Regions from separate parts of the Homo sapiens genome. Here region 2 is linked to region 1. The links come from fine-mapping of genetic effects on gene expression. A gene starts in region 1. The other region holds a variant in brackets. All regions are shown on one strand. Distances are between the middles of the regions. Region 1 holds the start of NSMAF (neutral sphingomyelinase activation associated factor). Region 2 overlaps NSMAF (neutral sphingomyelinase activation associated factor).

Region 1 (16,606 bases):
TCAGCTGAAATATCAGTGATCAGAGGAGACTTCTCTGACCCCCTATCTAAAGAAGTTCTCACCCTCTTCATGCTCTATTCCTTACTGTGGTTCAGTTTTTCTTGTGATACTTATCCTTACCTAAATTTACATTATTCACTTTTTAAATAGTCACTCTTACCAGAAGGTAAGTTCCAAAAGGGCAAGGACTTCATATCATTTATGGCTGAGTCTCTAGTACCTAGAACATTTCCTGGCATACAATAAATAGTCAATACCTTTTAATGAAGACGATGTAAAGAAAAAAATAATAGTCTCAGGTGTCATCTTCCTTAAGAATAAGTATCAATATGTATTCCTGGCTAGTTTTCATTTTAGTAATGGGGTACACGTTGCAGATTGACTGACCCGGGAGCCATTCCCAACCTGCTTCTGCCTGGCGGCTTGGCAATATTGAGGCTGTAAGAGTGAAGCACTTGTTTGCCCAGTCTCCACTGCTGCTATGCAAGAATTCTGGCCTGGAAGATTGGTGTGCATTTCTGGGAGTGCTTTTGGTTTACTAATAAGAGAAACACACAAGGCTGGCCCTGCCCTTCCTCCTTATTTCTCCTCAGAAGCTAAGTACAATCATGGTGATGGAACGTGATCTTGTGATCAAAAGGCTACAAGTCTAAGAGAAAAGTCAGGCTTCTATTAACATCTGTGCCATCCATGCCAATGATGAGGAAATGTACTCCAACTATTGACTGAGTTTTCTTTTATTTACAGTATAACAAATCAAAATAGATACACATGCTGACAAAAGAAAGCACAATATTCAATTCAACAAACATTTACTGGGCAACTGCTAAGTGCAAGACACTGTATTTAGTGGCAATGTGGATATAAAGACCAACAAGTCACTGTTTCTGTTCCCAAGGAGATTCTAACCCAAAGAGGGAGATAGGCCTTATAAGGTAAAATGGGGTCACTGTTCACATCCCTATCCAACCATAGTCTCAAAGGCACCTACCCACTAATGCCCAGCTGAATGCGTGACATACACTGATGTGAAATAAATATGTACTGAGTAAGTGAATGTGAGATAAATTCCACTTGGGTGCATTAAAAAGACTTCAAATAAGTTTTGAATGGGAATTTAAAGGACAGGTAGGATTTTCACAGGAAGAAATGGTGGTAGAAAGGTAGGAAGGCATTTTAGACAGAGAGGACAGGAAGCTTAAAAGCATGAAGGCAGTCATAACATGTGTAAGGGAATGGCGATTGCCCATTTTCTTCAGGTAAGAAAAGAATGTGCTACTACAGGGTGAGTATCCCTTATCTGAAATGCTTGGGACCAGAAATATTCTGGGTTTCAGAATTTTGTTTTGGATGTTGAAATACTTGCAGAATACATACTGGTTGAACATCTCTAATCCAAAAATCTGAAATCCAAAATGCTCCAACGAGCATTTCTATTGAGCATCATGTCAGCACCCAAAAAGTTTTGGATTTTGGAGTATTTTGGATTTGGAATTTTTTGATTTGGGAAGCTCAAACTGTATCAGAAATTTTTTTCTCAACAGCCCTCTGTCATGGCACCAGTTGAAATTACCTGGAGATTGAGTACAGAGAATCAACATTAAGAAATTAGTCAGGAGAGAAACCAACTAAGGAGACTGACAAGAAGAAAGAATCAAGGTAGGAGAAAAGCAAAGAAACTGTGGGCTCTCAGAAGTAATGGGAGCAAAGCCCTCCAGTGAGGAGATACGTTAAATGCTATGTTATACTACATTTGATTCTGCTGGTAGCTCAGAAAGATGAAGCTAGAAAAGTGATCAATGAATGTAGTGATTTGACAAGAACCATTACAGTGGAGTGGTGGAAATAGAAGTCCAATTATTATTACTTTTGGAGGCAGGGTCTTGCTGTGTTACCCAAGGTGGAATGCAGTGGTGTAGTTAGAGTTCACTGCAGCCTCAAACTCCTGGACTCAACCTATCCTCTCACCTCAGCCTTCCAAGTAGCTGGGACTACAGGCACGCACCACCATGCCCGGCTAATTTTTTAAAATTTTTTTGTAGAGATGAAGTCTCACTATGTTGCCCAGGCTGGTCTTGAACTCCTGCCTCAAGCCATCCTCCTGCCTCAAGACATCTTCCTGCCTTAGCCTCCCAAAATGCTGGGATTATGGGTGTGAGCCACCACATCTAGCCTGGACGTCCAATTGGAATGGACTCCAGAAAACACAAGGTGAGGCCGGGCACGGTGGCTCATGTCTGTAATCCCAGCACTTTGGGAGGCCGAGGTGGGCAGATCACGAGGTCAGGAGATCGAGACCATCCTGGCTAACACAGTGAAACCCTGTCTCTACTAAAAATACAAAAGATGAGCTGGGCGTGGTGGCGGGCGCCTGTAGTCCCAGCTACTCAGGAGGCTGAGGCAGGAGAATGGTGTGAACCCGGGAGGCAGAGGTTGCAGTGAGCCGAGATTGCGCCACTGCACTCCAGCCTGGGCGACACAGCGAGACTCCAACTTAAAAAAAAACAAAAAACAAAAAAAAAACACAAGGTGAGAAAATGGAGCAGCATGTATAGGCAGATGTTTCAAGAAGTTCCTCTGTGAATGGGGAGTTGGAGGGAGATGTAGGATAAAGGGAAAGTTTTTTGAAAACTACATTTATATTCAAATAGAAATGATCCAACAGTGAGAGAGAAATAGAGAAAGCAAGAGAGAAAAAGAAAGAAGAAAGGGTCATCGCAAAGGCTAAATTGTTGGGAAGAAAGGAGAAGTTGGCCTTTGATAGGAGCAAATATACCTTAAAATAGCAGAAATGAAGACAAAGCATAAGAGGGCAGATGCTAGTAGGGTGGATGCTTTGGTGAGGGGAGGATGAGGGAGCTCCAGTCTCAGTTCTCTCAATTCTCCACGAACACAAACTGTTAAAAAGGAAGCGTGTCTCTTCTGAGTTATTGTTCAAGACAATCCCTTCGATTGTGTTTCTTCCCTTCTTTCTGCCAAAGATAGACAAAATCAGACACTAGTTCAAATGGTAAGGACAGATTTTAATCAGTAATACATTATTGCAATAGGGGTCAGGAGTCAGCACGAATTCAACTTTGATTTGTGCAAAGGTGGACGGACATTTTTGAAGTGAAAATGAGGGAGTAGGGAAGGGGAAATCGGGCTGAATAGAGTAAGGGAATTAAAAATCTAGAAAGGAATGGTCTGTGTAAATGTGATTAGGTCAGCTGTGTCCGCTAGCTGGTCATTATTGAAGTTGAGATTCTATTTTCTCACAGAGCCTGTAAGACAAGGTCCTATACTTCCTAATGATTACATTTCAAAGGAATAGATTTCAGGTCCTTGAGAAAGACACTGTGAGTTGTAGGAGACACATATACATCTTAAAGGGACAGAGGAGTGATTCACAATTGTAAGCCCTTTTTGGTAAATGTTCTAAGAAAGGGTGGTCAGAGTACACCCTTTACTATGTCAGATGTTGGCTTTACTATATCAGATGGGGCCTGTGTCAGATGTTGGCTGGAATGAATAGTAAATTCTTTTTTTTTTTTTTTTTTGAGATGGAGTCTTCCTCTGTCACCCAGGCTGGAGTACAATGGTGCTATCTCGGCTCACTGCAACCTCCACCTCCTGGGTTCAAGCGATTCTCCTGCCTCAGCCTCCCAAGTAGCTGGGATTACAGGTGCCCGCCACCACGCCCGGCCACTTTTTTGTATTTTTAGTACAGATGGTGTTTCACCACGTTGGCCAGGCTGGTCTCAAACTTCTGACCCCAGGTGATCCGCCCACCTTGGCCTCCCAAAGTGCAGGGATTACAGGCGTGAACCACCCGTGCCGGGCATAAGTAGTAAATTCTTTTAATTGCTTTGAGCTTTCTCAGACAGGTACATTAAGTGGGGCTGGGTTATGCTAGGGATGTGGCCTCAAGCTGTTAGAAATTATGTTTGTTTGTTTAAGTCTTTTAATGTGGGGGATGGGGACTGGACTAAATTATTCGTGCTGGGAGTCTGGTTTTTATAGGCCAAGGTTGAGGCCTAGTTGAGAAGTGGGCTCAGAGGAATTTGGCTAGAGTTGGGTTAAGGAGATTCTTTAACAGTCTCTGCCTATTCGATCACATCTAATCTTCCTCTAATGTTTAACTTCAAGAAGATAACTTACATTCTGGGTTTTTGTTGTTGTTTTTTCCTTATTCCAGCCAAATTAATCTCTCCTCTGAACTCACAGAACCTTTTGTAGTACTTCTCATAAAGAAATTTATCATGTACCTTTTGACAAATTTTATTATCTTATTTCATTGTGTACCTGCTCATGTATTTATTTCTTGGCTACCAGACAGCATCACAATTTCCTCCAGGAATGTTGACCTAATGTGTTACAGGTTCTGCACTGCACTTGGACACGTGGAAGGGACTCAGTCACAGTCAAAGGGTACCCAGGCACCTTCATTCATTCCCAAAATTTTTAATGGGTGTGCTCAGTATACATAGCATTTTGTCCAGTGCTGCTAGGGGTCAAATTCAAAAGACCCAGCCACAACTTTTATTCTTGGTTTCCCTACCTTCTCTTCACAGTCCTGCGACTTACTAGAGAAAGCTGAGATGTACATTTACCTTGAAGCTTCTAAAAATGTAACCCTGCAAAACCTGATCCTTAAGACAGTATGAGATATGTTTCCACAAGCATACAATTTAGAGGTTTGGATCCTTTTGTAGTTCATAAGTGTGATGATTGGGTGTTCATGTGCAGCTGTGTGATGTGCCGCCCTTGAACCTTGTTACGAGTTTGGCACATTACCTGTTTAACGTGAAAAAGAAACTTAGAGGCGTGTTATTCAAGAATCCCTCAAAGGTAAACAATCAGAGGCTCATTCTCAGCATATATTAAGAAGTTATAACCACACTGAGATACCACTCATACCACTAGAATAGCTCTAAACAAAAGTCAGGTAATAATAAATACTGGTAAAGATGTAGAGAAACTGGAACCCTTCTACGCTGCTGGTGGGCATGTTAAATCGTACAGCCACTTTGGAAAACAGTCTGGCAGTCTCTCAAACATTTAGACATGGAGTTACCATATGACCCAGTTCCATGGTGGGCAGGCCTATACAAATCTATCTCAAAGTCCTGGGATGCCGGGAGGTGGAAGAAAGAGGCTGACAAATAAAGTTCCTTGGGAAGAAACATTTAATAGCGACTAAGGAACAGAAGCCATGTCCATATCTGTGTCTTGGGCAGCAAGATGAGATGGTGGATTGCTGTGCTATTAACCCCCAGACTCAATGTTTTTTTTTTTTTTTCTTTTGAGATAAGGTCTCTCTCTCTCTGTATTGCCTAGGTTGGGGTGCAGTGGTACGATCATGGCTCACAGAAGCCTCAAACTCCTGGACTCAAGTGATCCTCCTGCCTCAGCCTCTCCAGTAGCTGGGACTATAGGTGTGTGCCACTGCACCCAGGTAATTTTTATTTTTTATTTTTTGTAGAGACAGGGTCTTGCTTTGTTGCCCAGGCTGGTCTCGAACTCCTGGCTTCAAGCAATCCTCCTGCCTCAGCCTCTCCAGTAGCTGGGACTATAGGTGTGTGCCACTGTACCCAGGTAATTTTTATTTTTTATTTTTTGTAGAGACAGGGTCTTGCTTTGTTGCCCAGGCTGGTCTCGAACTCCTGGCTTCAAGGAATCCTCCAGCTTCAACTTCCAAAAGCATTGGGATTACCGGCATGAGCCATCACTCCAGCCCCTTAGGGCTTATATACCATAGGGGAGGGGTGGTTCAGAAGGGATGTGTAGGACAATTGAAGTATAATAACATCAAGTTGTTTGAATTAAGGACAGAACATACTGGGTAGATACCTGCTCTTACACAAGGAACAATAGATAAAGTAGAAATCTTAGAGGCCTTCCCAGAACTGGGGTCAATCAGAAGTCAACACGGAGGATTAGCTTCCAAGATGGAGCTGCTTTCGCCTCCACATCCAGCAATTCCACTCTTAGATTCCAATTCCACTCAACAGAAATGGAAACATAGGTCCATAAAAAAACTGTACATGACTGTGTACAGCAGCCTTATTCACAATAGCCAAAATGTGGAAACAACTGAAATGTCCATCAACTGATGAATGGATAAACAAAATGCAACAGAATATGCTCCAGCAATCTAAAGGAACGAAGTACTGTACAGATACATGCTACAACATAGATGAACCTTGAAAGCATTACGCTAAATGAAAGAAGCCAGACACAAAAGGCCACATATTGTATGGCTCCATTTATATGAAATATCCAGAATAGGCAAACCCATAGAGACAGGAAATTGATTATTGTTTGCTAGGGCTGGGGTTTGGAGGGTAGAGTTAGGAAGAGTGACAGCTAGAGGGTATGGGTTTCTTTTACATGTGATGAAAATGTTCTCAAATTGTGGTGATTGTTGAACATATCTGGAAATATACTAAAAATCGCTGAATGGTATACTTTAAATGGTTGACTTGTTTGGTATGTGAGTTATATCCCAATAAAGCTGTTATATAAAAAAAAATCATGCGAGCAATTATCTCAACAATCAAGAGACTGTGTTAAAGATTCTTTGCTTGGCCAAACTTCAGTTAGGCTTCTGAATCTTCTCCCAGGTCCTTGTGTGCACTTCCTTGTAAATGCAGTGTTAGGAAGTAACACTGCCACGGCAGTTTAGCAAGAATCCCCCACCCTCCATATGTGATCAAAATTCTTTACTCCTACCCTTAGTATCTGACCCCCTGGCCTGCCTTCACTGGGACTCCTGTTAGGTTGGTTCAGCCAGAATTTCCCCCAGAATTGATGTTTCCTCTTAGCAGTTTTCCGAACACCTGCTCCTTGCTCCTTGGCTATAAATCTCCACTTATTCCTGGTGTATTTGGAATAGTTACGACTGAGTTGCCTTCACCCCTTTAACTTCCGTCTTTTTTTTTTTTTCACAATGGAGGACACAAAACGTTGTTATTTCAAGTCTTTGTGGCCAACAGATTGGTGGTTTATGGGCCAGCATCCCTTTTTATGCGTAAAATATTTAAAACGCAGCCTGCAATGGTTGGTAAAGTGGTGAAACGTTTAGTGTGTGAGGTCGGATCCTGGTCTGGCCGCTGGCCCTGGCGATCCTCTGAGGCGGCCTGAGTTTGGGGCGCCTCGTGTCACCGCGCGCCCCTCCTCCGGGCCTGAGTCACGGTGCCGCCGGAGTCCCCACGCGAGGATGCTGCGGTGAGCGCGGCCGGGACGCCGCGTCGGGCTCTCGGCCGCCCAGCGGCGCCGCAGGGGAAGCCAGGCCGGCAGCCGCGCGCTCCCCAGCCGGCCACCAATCCCGCCCTCCCCGGCTCCTCCGGACCTCCTCGGCAGGCGGCGGCGGGGCCTGCCTGTGCGCTCTGCGCCCGCCCGCGCCTACCCTCCATGGCGTTTATCCGGAAGAAGCAGCAGGAGCAGCAGCTGCAGCTCTACTCCAAGGAGAGGTGCGCGCCCAGCTGAAGAAGGGCCCAGCCGGGGGCCTAGTCGGGGCCGGTCGTGGGGACGCCGGCCGGAGATCTGAGGGACGGGAGGCGGCGTGGGGGCCGGGCACGGAGGCAGGGGCCGGACGCGTGTCCAGGGCCTGGGCTGGGGGCTGTGGCGGAAACCTGAGGTCGGGGTGAGAGGCCGGGGGCCTGGTCTGGGCCGGAGCCTGCCGGGGACAGGAACTGGATGACGGGCCAGGCCAGATTCCACCGCGGAGCCGAGGCATGCCGAGCTATCCGGCAGTGCAGGTCCCGGCGGCCGCGGGCAGCTCACCCGGAAGGCCGCGCGGGGTCCGGGCGTGGATCCCGGCACGCGAGCCCGGGCGTTCGCAGGGGAGGGTGAGTACGCTGCCCGGCGGGCACCCCCTTTCTAATCCTTCCCCTTAATCGGGTCCAGGCACTCGGCGCCGGCGCCGCAGAGTTGGTCGCCGGGCGGCACCGAGCAGGCCGGCGACCACCCACTCGCATTGCCGCGCCTTTTTCCTGCCGACTCCTTTAGACACAGGACTAGCTCCATGCCCTGGAAGGCTGGGAGGGGGGCCGCCGGAAAGGCCTGATTCTGAGGAAAGCCAAGGTCCTGCCTCCCAAACACTTGCTCCCCGCGCAGTGGACCTTGTGTTGGAAAGCTTTGCAGTCGAAATCGCGGTGCGGCAGCGGAGCACTCATTCTCACCAGCATCCCAGTAAGGATTTGGGATCCCTTGAGCTAAAATGGTCTCACAGCAGTTCCCTTTCAGATATGCTGGACCTGTCCCCAAGGGAAGTCTCATAAGAAAGCTCACTTCGGCTCTATGTATAGTTCCCAGGGCATTTTTGGTGACAGAAACAACTTGCTCGGTCTGCAGCTCAGATGCCAAAAGGAAAGGGGGGCTGAATCATTTTACAGACACACTGTTTTGATTGTGAGAGCCACAGATCTTCCAGTGCTGCTAGCCTGTCACGTTGTCTCATCAGTGAATACCAGCAAAGCAGGTTACACGTGGGAATACAAGTGCAGACTTCAAGATTTGTCTACACTTGTTTTATAAGGGTTGACTCGACCCCTTTGATCCAGACATTCATCTTTCTCTAATCTGTAATGTTGGTCTAACCAGTGTGTCCACAGTACGAAATGTCATTTTTCTACTGTAGAGAAGAAGATACGATACACAGAAAACGTATCTCAGATATGGCTTTCAAAAATGTTTTTGGTGATGTGATTAGGTTTTAGTCACAGAAAGGGTTGTTTATTAAATAACTGAGCCCTAACTATGTAACTCACACTTGGGGATGCCCTTCTGACTGAATTTGTAATGCATTTTTCTTGTGGAAAGAGCTTGAGTGGAGATTCTTTGTTTAGTACCAACAATATTAAGACTTGTTGGTGCTCTGTATTGAGTGGGTGAACATTCATATTTAAATTGTGAGAACTTTGACACACTTGAATTGGCATCATGTTGTATGATATGAGTCATTCGTGCCAATACTCATATTGGCCTTTTTGATATACAGGGAAACGTTTTTTCCTTGGTTCTGGCTGTTATTTCGATGAAGTAATTTGTGTTCAATTTGGCTAGCTCATACAGCTCCGTGGTGTCACACAAACCTTGAAACCTGTACTTGCATTTCCATGTATATGCTGCTTTGTTAGAATTCATTGATTAGACAACAACGTGATAGGCTGGCAGTGTTCAGAGAGAACTCTAGCTCTTGGCAACCAAAACATTTATCTATCCAGTCAGGAGGCATCAACTGTTCCTGAGCATCAGTCATCTGAAAAAGTTGGCGCCATGTGTTTTATATTTATTTGAATTATAACTTGCTGAGTGCCCAAATTGTTTAGTGCTCTGCCCCATGGCTTTGCAACCTGGGCTGATGGGCATACTCCATTCAATGCATAGAATATGCATTTGAATGACAGGAATCTGTCTCACATCAGGTATGCACTGGAATCAAGGAGTCTCTTTTATAAATCTTAGAATTCATTCTGAAACAGAGGAATATTTTAAGGCAACTTTATTAAGCCCCAAATTTACCATTTCTGCCCAGATTTTTCCGGGTTTATCCCCTTGCATCAATAAACACAAATTAGCAAATGGATTGGATTCGTCATTGGCTCCAGCATACCCAGGAAAATTGTTACTTTTCTTGGAAAACTTGAAGAGGGGTTGTTTCAGAGGTTACCCATGAGAGGCCTCAACCTGTTCATTGTAAGTTCACTGGCGGCTCTCATGCTAATTAAGGGATTTTAGATTTCCAGAGCTACCAAATATTGACCCCAGAAAAGAAACTTGAAATGAGCATTTATTTCTCTTATTGTTAGGTTGATGTACTTTGATATTCCTGCAAAAGCAGAAGCATAGAGACTGACTAGGAGATTCTTGCATTGGTGGTTTAAACCAAGGTGGTGGCAGAATAAATGGAGGAAAGTGGATGGATTCTAGATGTTTTTAGGACGTGTGATTGACAGGTCTTGGTGTGGTGTATTGTCTGTGAGAGGTGATAAAGGAAGAATTCCAGCTAGGATTATCTGATAAAATACAGCACACCCAGTTAAGTTCGAATTTCAGATAAACAATGAATAATTTTTTAGTATAAGTAATTGCGATAGTATATGCAATATTTGGTATGTACTTATACTAAAATTTTTTTAGTATAAGTAAATGCAATAGTATATGCAATATTTGGTATATACTTATACTAATTTTTTTTATTTTTATTTTTTTGAGACAGAGTCTCGCTCTGTTGCCCAGGCTGGAGTGCAGTGGCGTGATCTTGGCTCACTGCAAGCTCCGCCTCCTGGGTTCACGCCATTCTCCTGCCTCAGCCTCCCAAGTAGCTGGGACTACAGGCGCCTGTCACCACGCCCGGCTAATTTTTTGTATTTTTAGTAGAGACAGGGTTTCACCGTGTTAGCCAGGATGGTCTCGATCTCCTGACCTCGTGATCCACCCACCCGCCTTGGCCTCCCAAAGTGCTGGGATTACAGGCGTGAGCCACCGTGCCCGGCCCTTATACTAAAATTTTTAAAAGTATATTATTTATCTGAAATTCAAATGTAACTGGGCATATGATATTTTTATTTGCTAAACATGGAAATTCTACTCTCAGACTTCTGGTTTGAATAACTATAAAGTGGTGCCATTTATTGTTGATGTTTATAAATAAATGTTTTGGTAATTTTAAGGATTAGAAAACAGACACTTGGCCATTCGAAATAAGTATACTTATATCCTGGTTAAGATTTAGGTGGCAGGCCAGACACAGGGCTCACGCCTGTAATCCCCAAATTTTGGGAGGCCAAGGCAGGCAGATCACGAGGTGAGGAGTTCGAGACCAGCCTGGCCAATCTCTAATAAAAATACAAAAATTAACCAGGCATGGTGGCGTGCGCCTGTGGTCCCAGCTACTTGGGAGACTGAGGCAGGAGAATTGCTTGAACCTGGGAGGCGGAGGTTGTAGTGAGCCGAGATGGTGCCATTGCACTCCAGCCTGGGCGACAGAGCGAGACTCCATCTCAAACAAACAAACAAAAAAAAGATTTAGATAGCAGGAACCATATTGATTTTATTGTTTTTTAAAAATGTCCTGTGCAGGTGTTGGTGAGGGTAAATTGAAAACATTTTTTATTTTTTATTGTTTTTTTTTATTGAGACGGAGTCTCACTCTCGCCCAGGCTGGAGTGCAGTGGCACGATCTCAGCCCACTGCAAGTTCCGCCTCCCGGGTTCACGCCATTCTCCTGCCTCAGCCTCCCGAGTAGCTGGGACTACAGGCGGCCACCACAGCGCCCGGCTAATTTTTTGTATTTTTAGTAGAGACGGAGTTTCACCGTGTTAGCCAGGATGGTCTCGATCTCCTGTCCTCGTGATCCGCCCGCCTCGGCCTCCCAAAGTGCTGGGATTACAGGCGTTAAAGGCAATTCACATGTCTTCCTTGGATTTGTCAGGGATGGCAGGTGTATACATTGGGTTAGTAGATGAGGATATTATACAGACTTTCTATTTAAGACATTTCTATTTTAATATGAAATATATTAAAAGGTGGGAAGATCACTCGAGCCCAGGAGTCCAAGGTTACAGTGAGCTATGGTCATACCACTGCACCCCAGCCTGGGTGACACAGTGAGACCCTATCGCAAAGAAAAAAAAAAAAAAGACATTTCTATTTTATGATTTAGAAGTAGACTAAAGTAGGCAAATTGTTAAATTTTTTTGCTTTACTATCCACCGTGGAGTGTTGGGATGACAGCTATTTCTTGGGTAATGTAGAAGTTTAGATACTTGCCTAGGTGCCATGGCTTACACTTGTAATCCCAGCCCTTTGGGAGGCCAAGGCACAAAGATCGTTTGAACTCAGGAGTTTGAGACCAGCCTGGGCAACATAGGGAGACCTTTTCTCTATTTAAAAAATAAATAGGCCAGGTGTGGTGCCTCATGCCTGTAGTCCCAGAACTTTGGGAGGCCAAGGTGGGTGGATCACTTGAGGTCAGGAGTTCGAGACCAGCCTGGTCAACATGGTGAAACCCTGTCTCTACTAAAAATAAAAAAAAAAACTAGCCGGGTGTGGTGGCACACACCTGTAATCCCAGCTACTCGGGAGACTGAGACAAGAGAATCGCTTGAACTTGGGAGGCAGAGGTTGCAGTGAGCTGAGATTGTGCCATTGCACTCCAGCCTGGTCAACAGAGTGAGACTTTGTTTCAAAAATAAATAAATACATAATAGAAAAGAAATTTAGATAGTTGAGATATGTTTCCTTCTGAGGAAGAGTCATAGTTTTATCTCTGTAATGTCATAGAATAAATTCTTAATTGTGCTTTGTAAGTTCCACAGATTTCCACTCAAGGATGGAAATTAGTGATCTTGAATTCTGTATTTGGTGCCTGCATATTACATTAATAGTTTAACAGGCACTTTGAGATTTCAACTTTGTTTCAGACATTCCATGAGTGTATAATATTCTTGATTATGCTAGTATTAACTTTCTTTCTTTTTTTCTTTTTTGAGAAGGAGTTTCCCTTTTGTTGCCCAGGCTGGAGTGCAATGGCATGATCTTGGCTCACCGCAAACTCCGCCTCCTGGGTTCAAGCGATTCTCCTGCCTCAGCCTCCCAAGTAGCTGAGATTACAGGCATGCGCCACCATGCCTGGCTGATTTTGTGTTTTTAGTAGAGATGGGGTTTCTCCATGTTGGTCAGGCTGGTCTCGAACTCCCGATCTCAGGTGAGCCACCACGCCCGGCCCAACTTTCTTTTACTCAATATGTTTGTTTAATCAATTGTGTCTATATTTATTTTATAAAAAGCACTTGGCAAGAGGGCAAAGTGATTGTGGTACTTCGGTTTAATCTTTCATTTCTAAGGCTTATCATCCCAGTCTTTTCAGATCTGTTTGTGGGATATACCAGGTGTTGAAACTGGAGATCAGTGGAGATAAAGTCAGGACTTAATTCGTCAGGAATGCCGATAGGTCCCAAGAAATCTATCCGACTGTGACTTAAAGAAATAGGGTTTTTTTTTCTCACATGAAAAACAGCGGGAGAGGAAATAAATGTTGCAAATTTCTTGGTTAATTTAGACTCTATATTGACTTTACCCAAAATGTATTACTAGCCTACCCACTTACTTTCCTTTTATCTCAAATTAACCTCTTCCAAAGTGTCTACCATTGAGAAGTCACAGGAATCTATCCATAAATGGATTTTGAGTATGTAAGCTATATAATATTCATTAAAAATTTTTTTAGTGTGATATAAAATAGGAATGGTCATTTAAGGAATTCAGTGCTATTTTTCTTCTAAATACCATTGTCATTTCATCTTTTAACCATCAGATATTTAGAATTGTGTCTTAAAATGTCCAACTCATAGATTTTGAAAATTATCTTTTTGTTATTTTTTTTAACTTGTATTCAGTAAGTAACTTAGAATTGTTATCTTCTTGGTGAGTTGAATTTTTTATCAATATATAATGACCTCTTTACTTCTAGTAATTTTTTTTCTATTTTGTCTGATATTAATATAGCTATATCAGTTTTCTTCTGGTTATTTGCTTTGTATGGGATTTTCCATTGTTTTACTTTTCACTATTCTGTGTCCTAAGGCTTTAGGCCTGTTTCTTATAAATAGCTTATACTTGGACTTTTTTTAAATGATTCATTTTGATAATTTTTATCTTAATGAATTAGTTTAGTCTGTTTACATTTATTATTACAAATATATCTGAATTCACTTTTATTTTTTAGTTTTGTTCTTTTATTTTGCCTTCCTTCCCTTCTTCCTTTGGATTAAATAAGGCCCCCTTGCTCCCTTTCATTTTTCCCCAAAGAGTATGGAAGTTATATATTTTATTTGTTTTTCTAATGCTTATCCTTAAAACATAAGCATATTAAATTTAAGATCTGAAGCTAATCATTATCTTTACTCTCCTCTCTACCAGTGTAAGAACCTTGGAACACTTAACTGCTGTGCCCCCATCCTCAGTTATAGTCTGTTATTGTCCGGTATTTTTTATCTCTATTTTAAACCTACAGATTGTACATTACTAATTGCCTGGTTAATGCTTCTGTAGTTTTACATGCATATTTACCATTGTTTTTGTTCAATATTCCTTCTTACATGTCATATCCTCGTTACGGAATTATTTTCTCTTTCCTGAAGAATATCCTTTAGAAGTTCCTCTGATCAGGGTTGGATGATGATAAACCACCTCTGTTTTTGTCTGTCTGAACATATCCTTATTTTCCTTTTGCTTTGAAAATCCGTTTTGCTAGATGTTTAATTCTCAGCATTTTGAAGATTATCCAAACAAAGGCAAAGGGCCAGGGAATATGCATCAGACTTGCTGGAGTGCTCTGGGGTGTTGGGGGGGTACCTCACAGAGAAAGGTCAGTGATAGTTGTGCCTTGTCCCCCTGGGGTAACGTTCAGCTACCTGGCTGGGCCAACTTCAGACTTCAGGAGAAACCAGCACTCCAGGGAGTGACCAGGGGCCAGAGTACAGTAGGACCATACTGTGATGGAACCTTGGCTCACTCATCCCAGCTCAGCATGTGTGGCTGCAGGATATCCTTACCTCCTTGCTGGCTTGATTGGGGCTAAGTCTGTATAATGTGGCAGAGTTTGTTCTTGATTGGGGAAACACCAGCCTTTTTCCTGGCATGGTCAGGGGACCAGGGTTCAAGCCTTGTGGTTGATGAGGTTTGATTGCCTTAAACACAATCATAGCAGTTTTCCCTGAAACTTTGCAGGAGGCCACCTTCTCTTCTGGGAGACCAGCCTGCAACAAACCAATATTGTTAAGTCTAATTGTTCTTTGTAGGTAATCTCTCTTTTCTCTGACTGCTTTTAAGATCTCCTCTCTGTAGTTTTTTGCTGTCTAGATATAGATTTTTTTTTCTTCATCTATCCTGCTTGAGCTTCCTAAAGCTAAAAGTTTTGGAAAATTTGGAGCCAAGCTGAACTAAGGCTAGAACAAATGTTCTCTGATCCAAGTCCAACCTCTTTTCCACTGTACCATACTGCTTCTATTTTAAATACTAGGTTGTGGGCTACTGGCCAGTGCTTATTTTTATGGTATCCTTGAAGTTTAGACTGATTCAGGAATGAATGAAGCCTGTTTTATGTAGATATCAGAATCTTGTTAGTCAAAGTGTTGTCCACAGGCCAGCAGCGCATGTGTGCCTGGAGCTTGTTAGAAATGCACATTCTCAGGCCTCACCCTGAAGCTGCTGCCTTGGAATGTGCATTTTAACAAGATCCCCAGTTGATTGTGTGCACACTAACCTTTGTGAAGCGCTGCGCTAGATAACAGTAATTCAGCATTCATCTTGATTTTTTATTTGTTTGTTCCTTCCAACTGAACTTCCTTCTTTAACTTCTTGATAGTACATATAAAAAGGCTGAGGGAAGCCTCCTGCCCTGCAGTATGACACTTGATGAGGAAACTGGAGGACTTTGAGAGCATAGATGACATTTTTACCATTTCTTCTCATAAATTGCTGGGACTTGAAAATAGAATTGACTGGCTTTATGGATGGTGTCAGTGAAAGGGATTTTGATATCTGAACCATCTTGGCTGGAAGTCACTGCATCTCACATAGTCAGGGAGAATGTAATTTTCTAGAGTCCAGCTGAGTGATAGAAAGCTTTAACCTAATTACTGAGGGGAAGGGCTAAAAAGGCCAGATGAAATAGTGAAATTGTTTAAATTCATGAGAACTCTTTCTGGGAGGGAAGAAGGGCCAGTAATTTATAGGAGAAAACAACTGGTACAGGAACTAGAAATGATACTTAGTCCCTCAGATGTCTCTCTGCAAATGTGTAGAACATGGATAATAAAATGAGCCAGGTCTTTTAACAAAAAAGGATTAATGTGTGTTTTAGGTGTCACTGGAGTTGGGTAAGATGAGACCCAAGATTGGAATCTAGTGTTGAAAAGCTGCAGACCTATTGAAAAGGAAAGACCTGCCAGGAGGTGAGGCAGTGGGCTCTGAATGTTAAGAAGGTATACATCTGAAGGGGAATCCATGAAACCCCAGGAAAAAATCCCAGAGAACACAATTGGAAAGAGGAACAAAGATAACATGATTGTGTTCTTTTGTTACAGGCCACGTTAAGTGGGTGGAAGAAATGGTGGCTGTGTACCTGGTGTAAATGGGAAAACAGGAAGTGGCAATAGAGATACTGGCTGAAATGCTTAGTGAAATCTAAGTACAGTTTATTGACTTCCTTTCTTAAAGTTTTAATTTATCCTAAACTTGAGAACTTTACTTAATTCTGAATATTAAAGACAAATTATTAACCAAGTAGCAATGAAATGAACCATCATAAAAAGCAGTCATATCAAGTTGTTTATTGCTGGAGCTCAGGAGAGTTGAGAGGGATCCTGTCATACATAGAACCTAGAATTTTAAGAAAGCAGATATTGAAAGTTCCAAGGAACAAAAAAGATAGGTGCTGTTACTGGACAGTTTGGAAAGCATATTGACCCAGGAAGTTTGTGAAACTGTCAAAAATACAATTAAGAACATCTAATCCAAATGATCTTTTGTGAGGAGTTACAGAAAATCAGGCAAGCTTGCATGTTGGAAGGAAGCTAAAAAAGAAAAAGAAAATCAGGCTAGCAAATAAAGAATG
Region 2 (16,606 bases), 70 kb after region 1:
TCTCTGGCCCTAATTATGCTCTTCTATACCCACATACAGATCTTTTTTTTTTTTTTTTTTGAGACGGAGTCTTGCTTTGTCCCCCACGCTGGAGTGCAGTGGCGCCATCTCGGCTCACTGCAAGCTCCGCCTCCCGGGTTCACGCCGCCGTTCTCCTGCCTCAGCCTCCTGAGTAGCTGGGACTACAGGCGCCCGCCACCACGCCCGGCTAATTTTTGTATTTTTAGTAGAGACAGGGTTTCACTGTGTTAGCCAGGATGGTCTCGATCTCCTGACCTCGTGATCCACCCTCCTCGGCCTCCCAAAGTGCTGGGATTACAGGCCTGAGCCACCGCGCTCGGCCCCACATACATCTTGAATTCAAAGTGCTCTCTCTTCTTCATTGGATTTCACTTATTTAACATTTGACAAACATTTACAGGGTATCTGTTCTGCGCTGGGCATGTGCTAGGCACTAAATTGAACTTGACCCAGTTCTCACATCTAATATTTGGAAAGGTAGGAAAGAACACTCACCTTTCTCCAGTTACCCAGGTTTTAGATTTTACCTAAGACAACTTCAAACCTACAGGCTTCCAGAAGGAGGTTGACACTCTGTGGAGCTTTGGGAGCAAAATCACTTTTTATCTCCTATCCTCCTGTCTGTTCCAAGGACATCCAGACATTTTAGGCATACATAGATGAGCATTCTCTCAAGCATGGAGAAATAGCTTCCTGGAGTTACATGACCCAGGGGTAGCTTCTTTAAGAGAGAATACTCTAGAGGGTTAAATCATGAAGATCACAGGATTATCTTGTGATGCTGTTTCAAACTGCACTCTGCTTAGTCACCAGGCTGTAACCACTGTCATGTGATTGTTTTAAGATGGTAATTGTTTCAGCCCTTCTTAAAGCAGAAGTAAAAGGATTACTCCTGCCAGAAGCCCTTGCGGTAATTGATTTCATCTCTGCTTTCCCCACCCCACACCAGAACAAAATTGTTGCATTCTTAGGCAACTGTCAGGTTTTTGAAACAATGTTGACAAGGAAATGATGACTCAGTCTTGTATTTCCCCAAATTCATAAGTTAGAGGCCGAGTGAAAACTTTGCAAACATTGTTAAAGTATAAAAAGATTCTAGTATTATTCAAAGATACTTTTTATCTTTCTCTATACAATTTTTTCCTTGACTAACGTGGAACCATCTAACAGGTACATTTCAAAGCAGTTATATTGTGACAGGGTGTTTCATTTCTTAGTTGTTTGATTTTAATAGAAAATATTGTTAATCTGATGCTGTTGTCTGTTGGTAACTTAGTTGACTTAGCAAAAATTTAATGTCGTCTCTCCAGGTGAAGAGTCTTTTGAAGACCTGACCGAAGAAAGCAAAACACTGGCCTGGAATAACATCACCAAACTGCAGTTACACGAGCACTATAAAATCCACAAAGAGTAAGAATATCTCTGCTTCTTCTCAGCAGCTGATAGTCCTGGTAAAAGTTAGGGTCTTGGCATGGGATTAAACTGTTTTAAGCTGAGTCAGAGGGAAAATTCCCTTTCAATGTTGTCTTTATTTTTAAAAATCTCCCCAAAATGTCTATAGTGATCTCCACCTGAGGTTGATGTAGTAGGGAAAGTTTGGCACGAAATGATTTGTGGTGGCTACCGTGCTGTCATTTCTGCAGTCTGTCACTTCACAGTACAAGATGTGGTCGGCAGAGAGCAGCCAGTTTTGTGCCTCTCAAATTGGAGTACACAGCTCCTTGAATCTTTGATGGGAGAAGTGTGATGTATACCCCACGAGTGTTGGATTTACACATAATGTAGGTGAAAAGGCACCTTTTAAAAAAATTAGCTCTCCCAGAGAACATTGCAAAGTTCACATGAATTTTAAAAATAATTATGCTTCTAAGAAATTGGGCTTGCTGTTGGACCCAGAGATGATATGTGTGTTCTCTGCCCTCTCTCATTAAGACCTTCATGTTCTCTGGTAGAAAGGCTCGAGAAGCACTGACCTAGCCTGTTCATCCTGCTACAGAGAGGAAACCCAGGTCCAGAGACTAGGCCCCACCTAGCTCCATGACGACAGACAGCCCCTCCGGCATACAGGTCATGGGTGGAGCTGGGCATACTGCTGTGCATTAGATGGATGGCTTCACATCACAGTCCAGCCTCCCGAAGAGAAACAAGGAGTTTTGGCTGATTCATGATGACAATGGCTGTCTTTTCTCAACTTCTCTAAATGGCACATAGGAAGGGACCTTGTAATCCAAGGTAGTGAAGACTGAATGATCCTTTAAGAGGACAGGCTGGAACCAATTTTCTCATCATTGAATAGTCACTGAGTAAATTAGCTTCAGTAATCAGCAAGTGAAGTGACTGTGAAGAAGAGTTTGTCCTTTTGGTGATGGTCAAACGAGGGGGAATAGAAGGAGAAGAGTTTTCCAATTGCCAGAAATTGTCAGGAATATGTAAAGCATTGCATGTGGAACACAGGGAAGCAAAGAGTGGGGATGTTTTCTAGCCACAGGCGTTGCCAGAACGTTAGAAGGTGCCAAGCAGTGATTTGGTAATGGCAGGTTTATGCTGGGACAGATCCGGCAGACATGCTGTGAAGAAAAAAATTAAGGAAACTTGGTAAAATTAAATCAAGGATATGAAACAAAGAGGGTATCCTAACACATGATGAGTAGTAATTTGTGAAACTTTGTTTTTGAGCAGAGCAGTTACTGGAATCACGGTCTCTCGCAATGGATCTTCAGTATTCACAACATCCCAAGGTCAGTGTTCCTCCCCGAAAGGCGGCTTAACCAAAATCCTAGAATGTCTGAGTTCTTTATTATTTAGCTCGTGGTCAAGGACTGCACTTGCATGTGCTGCCTCCACATAAAGTAAACTTAGAGCAGTTCCTTTGTGGTACATTACATAGAGTTTCATGGTAATTTGCCAAAAATAATAATGAAACATCTTTCTGTTGCTGATGAGGTTTCCCAGAGTTGAGGATAGAGGACAGAAACAGCCTCCTTTCCACACCCTTGCTGGGTCAGGCACTTCCTGCCTGCCCATGAGAGGTGCGCTGTCCACTTGTTGGGGTTGGCTGTGAGTAGCAAGTGCTGTATCAGAAATTGATGTGTGCCTGTCAGCACGTGGAAATGCAGATTTGCTGTTACGGTTTGCAGTTTTGTCATTCAGTGTATATTTCTTCGGGATATTTGATTTAGCTCAAAATCAAATTCATGTATTATTTAATATGCTTATACATTATCAAAATTATAAAAACCCTTGCAGTGTGTCATTGATATGACTTATAGCTGTAAAGCAGAAAGCATCCCTTACTATATACACCATTGTTCTCTCCCTGGTAGTCTGCATTATATATTATTCATTAAAGTATGTCTTGGCCTTGTCATGTTGAGAGCACTGTGTTGGCACTCTGGAAGATGCAGAGATGGAAGGGTAGTATCTTTGCTTCCTGCTTCCATGAGAAAACAACTTGTTCTGACAAAGTTTGTAACTTTATAAAGTAAGGCTACTCGTTATTTAGTCTTTATCATAGGAGATTATATTTTTCATTCATTAAGACAAAGTGCTATCCAACTAAACACTTTCAGGAAAATCAGAATTACTACTCTCAGATTCTGTTATCATTGTTTATGATCTGTAGCATTTCATTCTGTTCTTTTTCAAATACTGTCTTGGATTGTATATAAAAAAATTTTCCACAAAGCATAGAAGTGATTCTACACAGTAGATCAAAAGGAAGTTCATGTGCAGTTCCCAAACTGGGCCATGCCAGGGTCACCGAGGCACTTCTCTGATAGAAGGAAGCAATCTGTATTTTGCCAGGATTTCTACCTGTGGAGTTTGCCAAAAATTATAGCCTCAGACAAAGTGCTTTATCTTTAAGCAAAACCTGTGTTCTTAGCAGGATTTGTCTGGGATGGCTTGTTAAATCGTTCAGCACAGTTGTACTTGTATGACCTTGTTAACCATGAATTTGATGAGCGTTGTGGCTTCAAACCACTGAGGCTTATTAAGCATTATGTCACTCCTCTGTGGATTTTCACAATAAAGGAGAGAGAGGTTTTTTTTTTGTTGTTGTTGTTTTTGTTTTTGTTTTTTTTTGAGACAGAGTCTTGCTCCGTCGCCCAGGCTGGAGGGCAATGGCACGATCTTGGCTCACTGCAACCTCCGCCTCCTGGGTTCAAGCGATTCTCCCGCCTCAGCCTCCTGAGTAGCTGGGTTCACAGGCACCCACCATCGTGCCTGGCTAATTTTTGTATATTTGTAGAGATGGGGTTTTACCATGTTGGCCAGGTTGGTCTTGAACTCCTGACCTCAGGTGTTCCACCTGCCTCGGCCTCCCAACGTGCTGGGATTACAGGCATGGGCCACCACGCCCGGCCGAGAGAGTTTAAAAATAAAGTCAAAAGCTTTTGTTTTTTTCTGTTTGTTTTTCTCATATTTAGATTTTCATAATTCATATTACTGATTTATATGTATCCTGATGGTCACCCCAAAATTACATATCTTCTTCTAGTATACAGTATGTTTAGGTATGTGGGCAGGCACAGAACCCACCACTTATGAGCTTAGCTTTTACTGCAGTCTTTAACATGATGACCTCTAGTACAGGGGATCCTTGATTTCAAGAAAAACGTCTTTTTTTTTCTTTTATTATTTTCTTTTTCCATTTTTTTGGTTCCCTGACTGAGAAATGAACCCAGGCTGCTGCAGTGAGAGCACCAAATCCTAACCACTAGACATCAAGGAGAGAAAAACATCTTTATAGAACCGACTGGTTTCTGGTTTTTTTTGTAGGATGTCTCAAATTAATCATCTTAAATAGATTTTGTGGTGAATGCTCAGAATTGCCTAAGAGAATCAAAAGCAAGGTTGGGAAGACTATCAGATCTAATTATACTGCTCAGGGGAAAGTTCAAGTGATACTGTGTTCATTCTTCTGTTTTCGTTTTCAAATTAATGCTGAAGAATATCTTATTGAGGCTCATGTTTATAAATTGTCAGGAATTCTGTGTGTTGGGGTTGCAAAAATTGGGTTGAATTATTAAGTTATACTGTGCAGAAGAAATTATTTAAAGATCATTCCGACATCACGTTGTGTAAGTTAGAAAATAGATTGTTACATATCTCAAATATAGGATGTCTGAAGCACATTAGAGCCTTGTAATTTGTGAGTCTTGGGTTTTAAGAGGTTGTTTTGAGGCCGGGCACAGTTACTCACACCTGTAATCCCAGTATTTTGGGAGGCCGAAGGGGGCGGATCACTTGAAGCCAGGAGTTCGAGACCAACCTGGCCAACATTGTGAAACCCAGTCTCTACTAAAAATACAAAACTTAGCCAGCCGTGGTGTGCACGTCAAAAAATCCCAGCTATTCGGGAGGCTGAGGCACAAGAATTGCTTGAATCTAGGAGATGGAAGTTGCAGTGAGCCAAGATCACACCAATGCACTCCAGCCTGGGCAACAGAGTGATACTGTGTCAAAAAAAAAAAAAAAAAAAAAAAAAGGAAGGTTTCTGTTACACAAGAAAATTAAATGCTTGGATTTTTAATTTCTACTTTATTATTATTTAGAAAGTCAGTGGTTCCCTTCTATAACTAATGTTCAGTGCAAGGGTATCACACTTAACTATATATAATTGGGCAGTTTTTTTAAAGAAAACATATTGCCAAGATCTTTTTGTCTTATTTAGTATTAAAATTACTGTTTCATTGTTACTATTAAAATTGCTATTTTCCTCCCTGTAACTTTCTGCATATACCAGCTACCACATTTCTGCCTGCAGTCATGCTGAAATGTCAACAGTATACCTACCATGTCTGTGCTGGATTTTTAAATTGATGTTTTTGTCATGGGGTTACAGGTCATAGAATCTTAATGTTGGATGAGGCCTTAGGTCATCTAGCTCTGTTTACATTCGGTTTTCCATAAGATTATACTTTGGAGTATAAAGTGTACTGTTGGCCACCAGGAACAAGAAGAGCAGCTGTTCTTTGACGTCTGTAATGGTTAGGAAATCTTTCTTATATATCTACTTCTCATTATTAAATTAGATTCCACCTTGAAGATGTTTTCTAAAGAATCAAAAATGCTACAAAGAAGTATATCATTTTCAAATATGGTGAGTTCATTTTAATAGTATTATGATAGAAATCCGTGTAGTAGTTTGTTTTATACACACCCATACAATAATACTTTATTTCTCCCAAAACAATTGAGTTTATTCCTGTGTAGTAAATCTACCAGATACCTTAGTTAGATTACTTCTAATTTCAATGTAAAATTTTTTTCAGGTTACCACTTTCTCTTACTGTTGTGATTTCATTTTTAGCTTAAAATACTTGGAGAGCTACCCAGTAGAATTCTACTTAAATAAACCTCTCCCTTTTTTAGCTGTCAGACTAAATGTTATGTGCTACTTAATTTATGCATCTCTGAGTTGGTAGGATATCTAATATGACAAAACCAATTCTTCTGAAAGAACACATTTTATTTTTAATGTAAATCATGCAAAAGATCTGGAAATTCTCTGAAGAATTTTGGAAGGTTTTCTTACCCACACAAGTCTGTAGTCCAGAGGGGGTATTTTCTTTCTTGAGGATCATCCCCAGTCTGCCCCCA[A/G]CTGGAGATTTACTCCAGAGTGTGAGTGGGCTTCTTCCAGCCCAGGGCAGGACCCTGGAGAGTCATCAGGCTAGGTCGTAAATACCCTTGACATACATGGACATTCCTTCCTGCATTTGGGAAAAAACCCTACAGCTGGAATTAGCCAGTTGAGAAAATCTGCGTAAATAGGAGGAGAGCCACATAAAGACGATTTGAGCATTAATTTTTCGGAAATGTATAAGATAGCTTTACTGTGTTAGAGACTTACTAATTATTATAGATTGTTAACGTCAAATCATTTGTATTTCAGGCTTTATCGTCTTGTTTACTTTTACCAGGAGATGCCACTGTCATAACTTCTTCATGGGATAATAATGTGTATGTATCTGTGCACCCTGCTCTGTGATTCGACGTGCAGAATAGCTGCCTCTGTGGACATGAGGTGTGAAAAGCCAGAAGCTTTCCCTGCCAGGACACAGCACTGTTTTCTAAAGGGAACAGATATTAGAGATGAGGACAGTATGGTTGGATTTGAATATGATTGCTTAGATTGAATAATTTCTCCAATTGGAGTCTGTTTTTCTCTAAGTTTTAAATTGAGGAGAAAACAGATGAGCCAGACATGGAAATTTCTAATTTTAAATTCAAATTTTGAATATTTTGATTTAGTAATTTGAGAACAAGCAATTTGTAATTCTAGTGAGCCTTAGTAAGTATAGAATGAAACAACATAATGTTTCTTTAATATATGTTTAGGAGCCTTAAAATTAAGCCAGACTACTGTTTTAATGCTTCTCATTATCTTTTAGCTATTTTTATTCCATAGCATTTGGAAGACGCCAGGACACGTTAATGGGACATGATGATGCTGTTAGTAAGATCTGTTGGCATGACAACAGGCTATATTCTGCATCGTGGGACTCTACAGTGAAGGTTCATATATAATTTAAAAAGTTTTTTTAACTTGGTGTGCTATATGGCATATGTATAATTTTTAGCTTAAAATGTACATACAGATATTATAAGCCACTCAACTACCTATTGCTAATGTGTTCAGTCACTCCACTCTTTTTCACAAAGCGTGTGAGTGTAAGGATATTGAATGTTATTGCCTGTGTTTAAAAAATACATATAAAATATATCTATAATATATATTTATATATTATTTATATTTAAAATATAATATCTGTTATATATTACATATATTTATATATTTTTATTTATATAATACATATTATATATTTTTTAAACACAGGCAATAACATTCAATATCCTTACGTATCACATACTTTGTGATATGTACATTCTTTTTATTTTTTGTTTAAAAAAAACACTTCCTTATTTACTTATTTTTTTTAGAGACAGTGTCTTGCTCTGTTACCTAGGCTGGGGCTAGAGTGCAGTAGTGGGAATTATAGCCACTTCTTAATATAATAAGTTTATCATGATTTCTGTACTGTGTATTCCATTGTGGGATGAATGGTCTAGCATTCATTCAATAGCAGAGTTAGAAAGAAATGTATAGTAGCAGCCCCTTTCATCTGCCATGATCAGAAATATTAGTTGATTATAGTTAATTAGAAAATGTCAAGTTAGCTCTCTCCGGTCCGTGCCTCCAAGATGACAAAGAAAAGAAGGAACAATGGTCGTGCCAAAAAGGGCCGCGGCCACGTGCAGCCTATTCGCTGCACTAACTGTGCCCGATGCATGCCCAAGGACAAGGCCATTAAGAAATTCGTCATTCGAAACATAGTGGAGGCCGCAGCAGTCAGGGACATTTCTGAAGCGAGCATCTTTGATGCCTATTTGCTTCCCAAGCTGTATGTGAAGCTACATTACTGTGTGAGTTGTGCAATTCACAGCAAAGTAGTCAGGAATCGATCTCGTGAAGCCTGCAAGGACCGAACACCCCCACCCCAATTTAGACCTGCGGGTGCTGCCCCACGTCCCCCACCAAAGCCCATGTAAGGAGCTGAGTTCTTAAAGACTGAAGACAGGCTATTCTCTGGAGAAAAATTAAATGGAAACTGTACTTAAAAAAAAAAAAAAAGAAAATGTCAAGTTAAAGTGAGGAATCATTAAAAGACACATTTTATTTAAACTGAAAATATCTGAATGCTCATTCATTCACCATTCTTTCGATGTAGGAATATGTTCAGTCTTTTCTTTGAAATCTTACACAAACCACGCCAGCTTTCATTATTTTCAGTTTCTATTTTGTGTTGGTGTAAAAGAAAGCAAGAACCTAAAATTGTTAGAATTCCTCCAGGAGTTTTTCAGAATTTTTCTTCCATTCTTTTAGATAAGTTTATTTGCCTGTACCTATTTTTAGTTATTTTGGGGGTAACATCCTTTTTGGTCTTCCCAAAACATTAATAGTGTTCTCAAGACACTGTAATACTTCTACACTCATATTTCCTTAGTTCACATACTAAAGTCACACGATTACAGCAGCAAGTGCAGGTGATAGAAACACACAGGTACAAGCAAGGGACAGTAAGCAAGCACATGCTGGTGGGAGAAAGTGCAGGCATAGGGAGGAGGAGCTGGAGCACTGTGCAGCTTAACTTTATTGGCAAGTCTGTTAAATGGAAATTGAGCATAGGAGTTTTTCTTGAATGCACTAGAAAATGACTTTTTGTTAAATGTTTGAAAATACCTTCTGCAATATGTTCCATCCTAGGTGTGGTCTGGTGTTCCTGCAGAGATGCCAGGCACCAAAAGACACCACTTTGACTTGCTGGCCGAGCTGGAACATGATGTCAGTGTGAGTACCAGCAACAAACTGTACAGAAAACTGACCTTAAAAGTCTAGGGGTTCGGCTGGAAGAAGGTTTTTGGTTTTGTTCATGTTGTTTTGCTTTATTTGGTTAATGGAAGATTATAGGCTAAATCTCAGTTCTTTTCTTTGTGTTGACTCTTTAGGTTTCCAAGTCTACTTTGTTTTGTTTTATTTTTTCTCCAAGTTACTTCTTTGCACATTTCCCTGAGAATTAGCTACCATCCAACTAGAATTCCAAAATAGTAGTTTCTGAGCAGGACGTTGAATATTTGGTACCCTCAAACTCTTTGGGGCAACAAGATAGGGCCTATGATCCTTCATGTTTTCTGATCCAGAAGCTGGAAGGGAACCATCTGTCCAGGAGACACCCATCCAACAGTGGGGGACAGTGACCAGCTGTCTGGGATGGTCAAGTACATGCAGCCTGTTGGCTCAGTTCTCACTTGCTCTGTTTTCTCTGGGTCACGCTGCTGCATCTTATGCTGTAGTTGACAGTACTGCCTTTTCTCTAAGGTTGTGAACTGATGCCTAATTTCCATGGTCTTCAGATTAGCTGAGTTTGAGAAATATTTAGTATGTAATTCATGATGATGTGCAAGTATAGCCTCGAGAGATTCCGCCACTCCCACAAATCCCTCAAATAATCATGGACTGGCTGTGCTTCAGGCACTTTGGCGGCTCACTATAATTTATTATTCATAGAGTTATCTTTCTGAGACTGTCAGTTTTAAGCTATTTTAAAACAGCATTACCTTTACTTTAGCAATACTTCATTTCTTCTTGTATTCCCTAGCTTATAAAGAATTTAATTTCATTTTTAAAATAAGTTATTCCGTAGGATGATGTTGAAATACATCTGCATTAGCAACACCGGCATACTGCACAATAGAGTTTAATTTATATCATGATGACTACATATTTGAACCAGACTAGAGAAACATAGCTAATGACCATAAATCTAATGGAATATGTATCAATGTGTTTTCTTCCTTAGGTAGATACAATCAGTTTAAATGCTGCAAGCACACTGTTAGTTTCCGGCACCAAAGAAGGCACAGTGAATATTTGGGACCTCACAACGGCCACCTTAATGCACCAGATTCCATGCCATTCAGGGATTGTATGTGACACTGCTTTTAGCCCAGGTAGATATTATCCTTTTTAAAACAGATAATACTAGGTAAATTGGAATTTTGAAATAAACAATATTGTTAATTTTGAAATAAACAATAAAACTTACAAAGAAAAACACTATTTGCTGATAAAAGAGGTTTTGCCAATGGCTAACACTGCTTTATGCCAGGGTACAGTATACTTGTGGCATTTGTATCAGGTAGAAAAGCCGGACTGGGTATTTTTAATTCCTCATTAGAGAAATTAATTTAAGATAAAAATGAACTCATAATCAAAGGGTCATCTCATCCTTACATCTTGGAAAGGGCTAGAACCATTTCAAGGAGAGGATAGTCATTGCTTAAGTACAAGGATTTTGAAGAAAACGAATGTGGAGATTAGGCCACTGGACTCAGAAATAAAATCCAGAATAATGTAAACCACATTCTGAAGCTGTCACTCATATCTGAGTCTCACCTTGTGTTGCAGATAGTCGCCATGTCCTCAGCACAGGAACAGATGGCTGTCTTAATGTCATTGATGTGCAGACAGGAATGCTCATCTCCTCCATGACATCAGATGAGCCCCAGAGGTATAGTTTGTGAGTTACTGGGGGCGAAGACATTTACAGACATGTTCATGATCACTTCATTTGGGCTTACATTGGCCAGTTCAACATATCCTTCCTTCATGATGAAGAAAGGACTATTTCTAAATCATTCTTGCAGGTGCTTTGTCTGGGATGGAAATTCCGTTTTATCTGGCAGTCAGTCTGGTGAACTGCTCGTTTGGGACCTCCTTGGAGCAAAAATCAGTGAGAGAATACAGGGCCACACAGGTAAGCAGCTACTGCAGTTGCCTTGATCTTTGTTCTCAAGATAATGAACTCAAGCCTGCCTTTTCCATCAGGGAACATACTCTTTTTGGGCAAAAAACACCCATGGTTTTTCCATGTCGTAAACATGTCCCTGGAGCCTCTTGATTGGCCAGGTGATCTGCATCTCGTAGGTTACTCAGGATTTAGATTTATGTTAACAGCCATTGGACTCCAAAAAGGAAGTCTTTAACTTTCATATGGAGAATTAAAAACCATCGTAAAGCTATTATTTTTCTTAAAGGTAATAGCATGATCTTAAATTTTTAGAATAGTAAAAAAAGAGAAAAAAAAAAAACCCAGAAACAATACAATAGGAACTACAATGAAAATTAAGGCTTCTTTCTACCGCTGACTCCTACCTCCCAGTCCTCCTTACAGTACTTTACCAGTGTGTGTCCTGTGAATAAGAGAGGGTATATGTGTATTAAATTGTTTATGTGAAGTATAATAAACTGTTCTGCCCATGTTTTTCATTTGGTAATATTTCTTGGAGATTCACTAGATTGTTTGCTTACAAATTCTTGCTTGCTTTCTGATCATTTGGAGGACTTGGTTTTTAATTCTTCTAGTGTCTCTTGTTATCCCTTGAGTTCCCACTGTAAGCAGTAACTTCCTACCTTCATTCTCTTCCCTGTGTCACTCGACTTCATATGGTTCTTCTTAAATGTATACCTTAAAAAGTCTGGGCCAGGCTCAGTGGCTCAGGCCTGTAATGCCAGCACTTTGGGAAGCCAGAGTGGGAGGTCAAGAGTTTGAGACCAGCCTTGGCAACATAGCGAAACCTCATCTCTTACTAAAAACCAGAAATATTAGAAAAGTGTGGTGACACACGCCTGTGGTCCCAGCTACTTAAGAGGCTAAGATGGGAGGCTAGCTTGAGCCCAGGAGACAGAGGCTACAGTGAGCTTCATCATGCCACTGTACTCCAGCCTGGGTAAGAGCAAGAGCGAGACTATTTCAAAAAAAATGAAATTCTTTGTGACTTTTGTTCTCAACTTAGTAACTTTAATGTGATTTGACCCCTTCCAGTGGAAAAGGAAATAAACCAATAACCTTACACCAATAACCCCACCTTTTCCTTCACATCTGTCTCCCAACTTTTGTCATGTTATACCTGTATTGTACTTACTTCGCCAAGGTATTTATTTGCATTGTTCTATATCCATAATTCCCAGTTGTTTTAGCTTTAGATTTACACTTAAATGGTTTAGTATTCCTCACAAGATCTTTGTACCAAGCAATTATTTTTAATTTATTCAAGGGTTTTATTATAGGAAGCAGACAAGAAAAAATAGAACTTACTTCACTTGTTTAGTAAATGAATAGCAAAGCAAGAGTAAGCATCAGAGTAAAGTTTATCTTTGGGTGCCTCCTGGTCAACTTCCTAACTAACCAAAATGTCTTTCTCTCAGGTGCTGTGACATGTATATGGATGAATGAACAGTGTAGCAGTATCATCACAGGAGGGGAAGACAGACAAATTATATTCTGGAAATTGCAGTATTAAGTGCCTTTTCCTCTCCTGAATATTAAATTGAACTCTATTTAATGCATTTTTAAACCAAACTTTTAAACGGACTGGTGAATGTGCAATGTTAGTAATTAGAAGTTTTACCACATGGAAAATTTGTGGTTTTAAACTTTCTAAATCATGGTGACTTCATTGAAAGCCATTAGTTGCTATTCTCTTAGGGCAGATAAAATGCGGCTGTGTTAGGAAAAACATGTTACACTGTAAGGCAGATGATCGTCCCCGTATGATGATTGTCAGAAGACAGGACTAAGTAGCAGAGAATAGCTAAGAGATAAATTGGGCTGGGGAAACTTGTCAGAAAGCACTGAACAATTAAGAAATTTTCCAAGAAAATGTGCAGTATTCTCTGCTACTTCTGAATCTGTTTTGTCTTCCTAATCTATCACAATTGCCACCCATCGGGTTTTGGGTGTGTGTTTTCATAGCGTGGTTACTTTCTATAATGCTGTACCCAGATTCTAAGAACCTGGAGAAGGATTAGCAGTTCTTAGTAAGTTTACTGTGTATAGGAACGGTTTGTATTTCATTACAGCTATTCATCTTTTCTACATTAAAAATATTTTTCTCTAAAGAAAGCTGTTTTCACTTTATTTAAGTAACTTAAAAGACTAGTGTTTTTAAGACCACAAGTCTAGAATCATCTTCTAGAAAACCATATTTAGTGATATGAATGTAATTCCATTATTTTGAAATTATCTTCAGACTCAGGTAGATAATCAAATATTTTTTTCTCTTCTAAATTTCAAACAAGGTAAGCTGTATAGCAGTAGCAGATTTCCTTTTATATTCAACCTCTGAACCATGGTAAGTGTGTGACTTATTATTTTTTCTATACTCTTTAAAAACATTGTTGTATCTTGCAGGTAGTATGACATAGGAGAAAAAACTTGAGTCAGACCACACTAATAGAATTTCCAAAGTCAGTTTCAGTGTTATTAAATATTACCTGGTCTCAGGTATTGCTAGGGACAATCAGTAGCCTCAATGAGTTCCTGCTGCATGGCAGGTGTGAACCAGCTCTTCTTTTGGCCCTGGTAATCTGGGGTTCCCAGCTGGAAGCAATTTTCCTGACACTCAGTCTCAGCACTGAGAGCTGTTCTTAGGGCCCCTGAATGTCAGCTTGTTCTGGGAGATGATGTCTCCCACAGCTGAAAGTGAATTTCACCTGCCTGTCTTCTAGATCATGCATAAGTTTGGTGAAAGCAAATGATGCAGTAATAGACAGACTAAAATGTAACTTTATTTATACATATTTAATTAGAATAGACATAAACCAAAAAGAAGAAAAAAATCAGGATAAAGTGTCAACTATCATTTTGTTTGCAAGGAGGAGTCAGGAAAAGGAACAAGTTATCAGAAAAATATTCTAAGACCATCCCAAAGTAGCTAGGTTACATAATCTTAAGAGTCAAATGCCAAAATTAAGTATTATACCACTTAATCCACAAATGAACAAAAGGGGAGTCAAAAGTTTATCCTGTTTAGTGTAATAACTTTTACATCACATATAGTGATTCACTTCTTAAAAGTGGCACTGGCAACTTTTAGAAGAAAGAAGTTTCCATTATGTGTTGACTAAAAAATCTCAAAAACAACTAAGCAGCTATGCTATAGCTCAGTAAGTACCATTAAACTGTTCTGGGCTAGTGTACATTTCAGGTTAATAGAGAACTACATTTTGGGTTTTTAGAAAGGCAGCAATAATTATATTTTGGCTTTTAGTCTAGATGCTTAACATAGTTAAGGCGACAGTTCAAGCATATTAAGTGAAGGTAGTTAAAATTTAAGAATCATCACAATCTCTTGAAACCTACATACACTGTTTAATGCTTACATGGAATGAAACCAGTGTTCTTAATTGGCATTTTACACACACACACACAGAATTTAAAAAAAAAATCAAAGGCAATCATTCTAAATGTACTATGATAGCATGTTAAAGATGCAAGTATGCTATAGAACTAAAGTAATATGAACAGCACTACTCATTACCTAGGAGAAAGGTGACTGGTTTTCACACAAAGCTAAGCCTGTAACAGTCATCCTAATCACAATGGCTTATAAAAGCATCAGGTTTCCAGTAGAGAAACTATTCTAGGAAAGTCAGTAAATCTCTTGAAAGTTTCACATCTGTAAAACCAGGATAAGGCTACAACTATTTTGAAATCTGAACAAGGTATCAGATGAAAGAGTAAGATTCCCAGCCATAATGTAAGATAGAAAGGTCCTCATGCAGCATATGCTCGCTGGCTCCGGGAAGGCTTCACGTGCATAATACAGAAGTTGCCAAAGAAGGAAACTGGAGACGTTCAGCTACATTTCCATGGTGCCGTGAATTTTAAACCTCAGGAATGGTGTGGTCCATTAGGCTTTTCATAATGCTTGGTGCCATCCTACAAGAGAGGTACTTTTATTATATACCGAGATTCTGGTTTTTGTTTTTCAAAATGCTACATTAATCCAAGAAAATTCCCAATTCCAATTTAGCACCTGTTAGCATCAAATATGAATGGAGAGAAGGGAAAGATCTTTTAAATGAGTCCAGAAGCATCTCTGGTAATCTAGTTGTTGACAGACACTCAGTGGGAAAGACTATCTGTATTTGGCTAGAGAAGTTAGGATACAAATGAATTCCTGTGCATTAAACATGGTGATTTTTAAAAAACAGAAAGAAAATGACAAGGCTGTGATGAGTTGGGGTAGAGGGATCCATCAGTGATTTAAGAAAAGAGAACCCTAGAAAAATTAGTCATGACAATAACTCCTTTTTACCCCCTCCAAGGGTAGCTAGGTGCATTCTATCCAGAAGCCAACACAAAAATTTCATTACAATGGTTATGTTTATGAATCTTTTAAATCTCATTTTCACATGCATAATAGAGCTTCTGAAAGGATTCCAAGCTGGCTTGACAAAAACAGCTATGGTAGATGCTAGGATATGAAAAGCTCTATAGAAGGAACCTTGTTGCCTCTTTTCAGTTCTGATCACTTGGCTTTCTAATCCTCAGTTCCTGAGCACAGATAGCACCAACACACCACACTTGTCTATCTGCCTCTTGAGATTCTGGAGAGAAGGGAAACTTACTCTTAGCATTCCACCAGCAAGAATTCTCCATTACGAACCACCACAACTATATTTATACTGAGCAGAGGGGTGGTAGGCAGTGCAACTGCAGTCAATTGCACTGCAAATTGAAAGCTGAAAGCATGCCCACTTCTCCTTGCATACCTTTTTTCTACCAGGCATTATAAAAACTGAGGAAAGTATATGTGAATTTTATTCCGTACTTGGGAAGTTGTAAGAGCTCATCCTTACCAACCCTCTGATTTAAATAACTTACTTCAAATTTCTAGATAAAACACCAGTATCCATTCCTTGGGTAAAAGAACCAAAGGGCTGAGAATTAAAGTATAGTGCTTATATTAAGTCACATGACCATATGCATTAAGTTGAGGAATTGTTTACTTACCGCTTAATAATATGTTCAAAGATAAAAGCAGGCATGATTGTAATAGTAACTACAGTCCCAGATGTTGACAGTATGTCTGCAATTTGAGAGTCCTGATAAAAACACATATTAAAAATTAATTCCACAGAGGCTTTATTTAATAAATACAAAACTATGCCAGTCTTGGTAAAGAAATACAAAATATATGTCTTGGTATTTCTAATTTTTTCTAGTATTTCTTACCA

Evidence for each region.
Region 2: its variant is fine-mapped to the expression of NSMAF in whole blood (INTERVAL, PIP 0.95).

The regions. Positions count from the first base shown.
Region 1 is chr8:58,650,421-58,667,026 of GRCh38, reverse strand. It overlaps NSMAF (neutral sphingomyelinase activation associated factor), which reads left to right and starts at 7,174. Exons shown (of 31, transcript NM_003580.4): 1 at 7,174-7,454. The coding sequence starts at 7,396. It overlaps LOC124902083 (small nucleolar RNA U13), which reads left to right and starts at 4,683; the gene lies at 4,683-4,786. RefSeq lists silencers at 7,097-7,436, 7,447-7,896 and enhancers at 7,608-8,170, 8,347-8,636, 8,171-8,734, 15,097-15,821.
Region 2 is chr8:58,580,385-58,596,990 of GRCh38, reverse strand. NSMAF (neutral sphingomyelinase activation associated factor) reads left to right here. Exons shown (of 31, transcript NM_003580.4): 22 at 1,332-1,431; 23 at 2,701-2,759; 24 at 6,057-6,124; 25 at 6,917-6,984; 26 at 7,416-7,539; 27 at 9,290-9,373; 28 at 10,383-10,533; 29 at 10,991-11,093; 30 at 11,230-11,339; 31 at 12,791-13,483. The coding sequence ends at 12,885. It overlaps SDCBP (syndecan binding protein), which reads right to left. Exons shown (of 9, transcript NM_005625.4): 8 at 16,383-16,474; 9 at 14,133-15,305. The coding sequence ends at 15,251. It also overlaps the pseudogene RPS26P7. Among named protein-coding and RNA genes, the nearest start is that of SDCBP, 35 kb to the right of the region's middle. RefSeq lists enhancers at 766-815, 1,165-2,364. The variant A/G (reference allele first, on the strand shown) is at 6,625.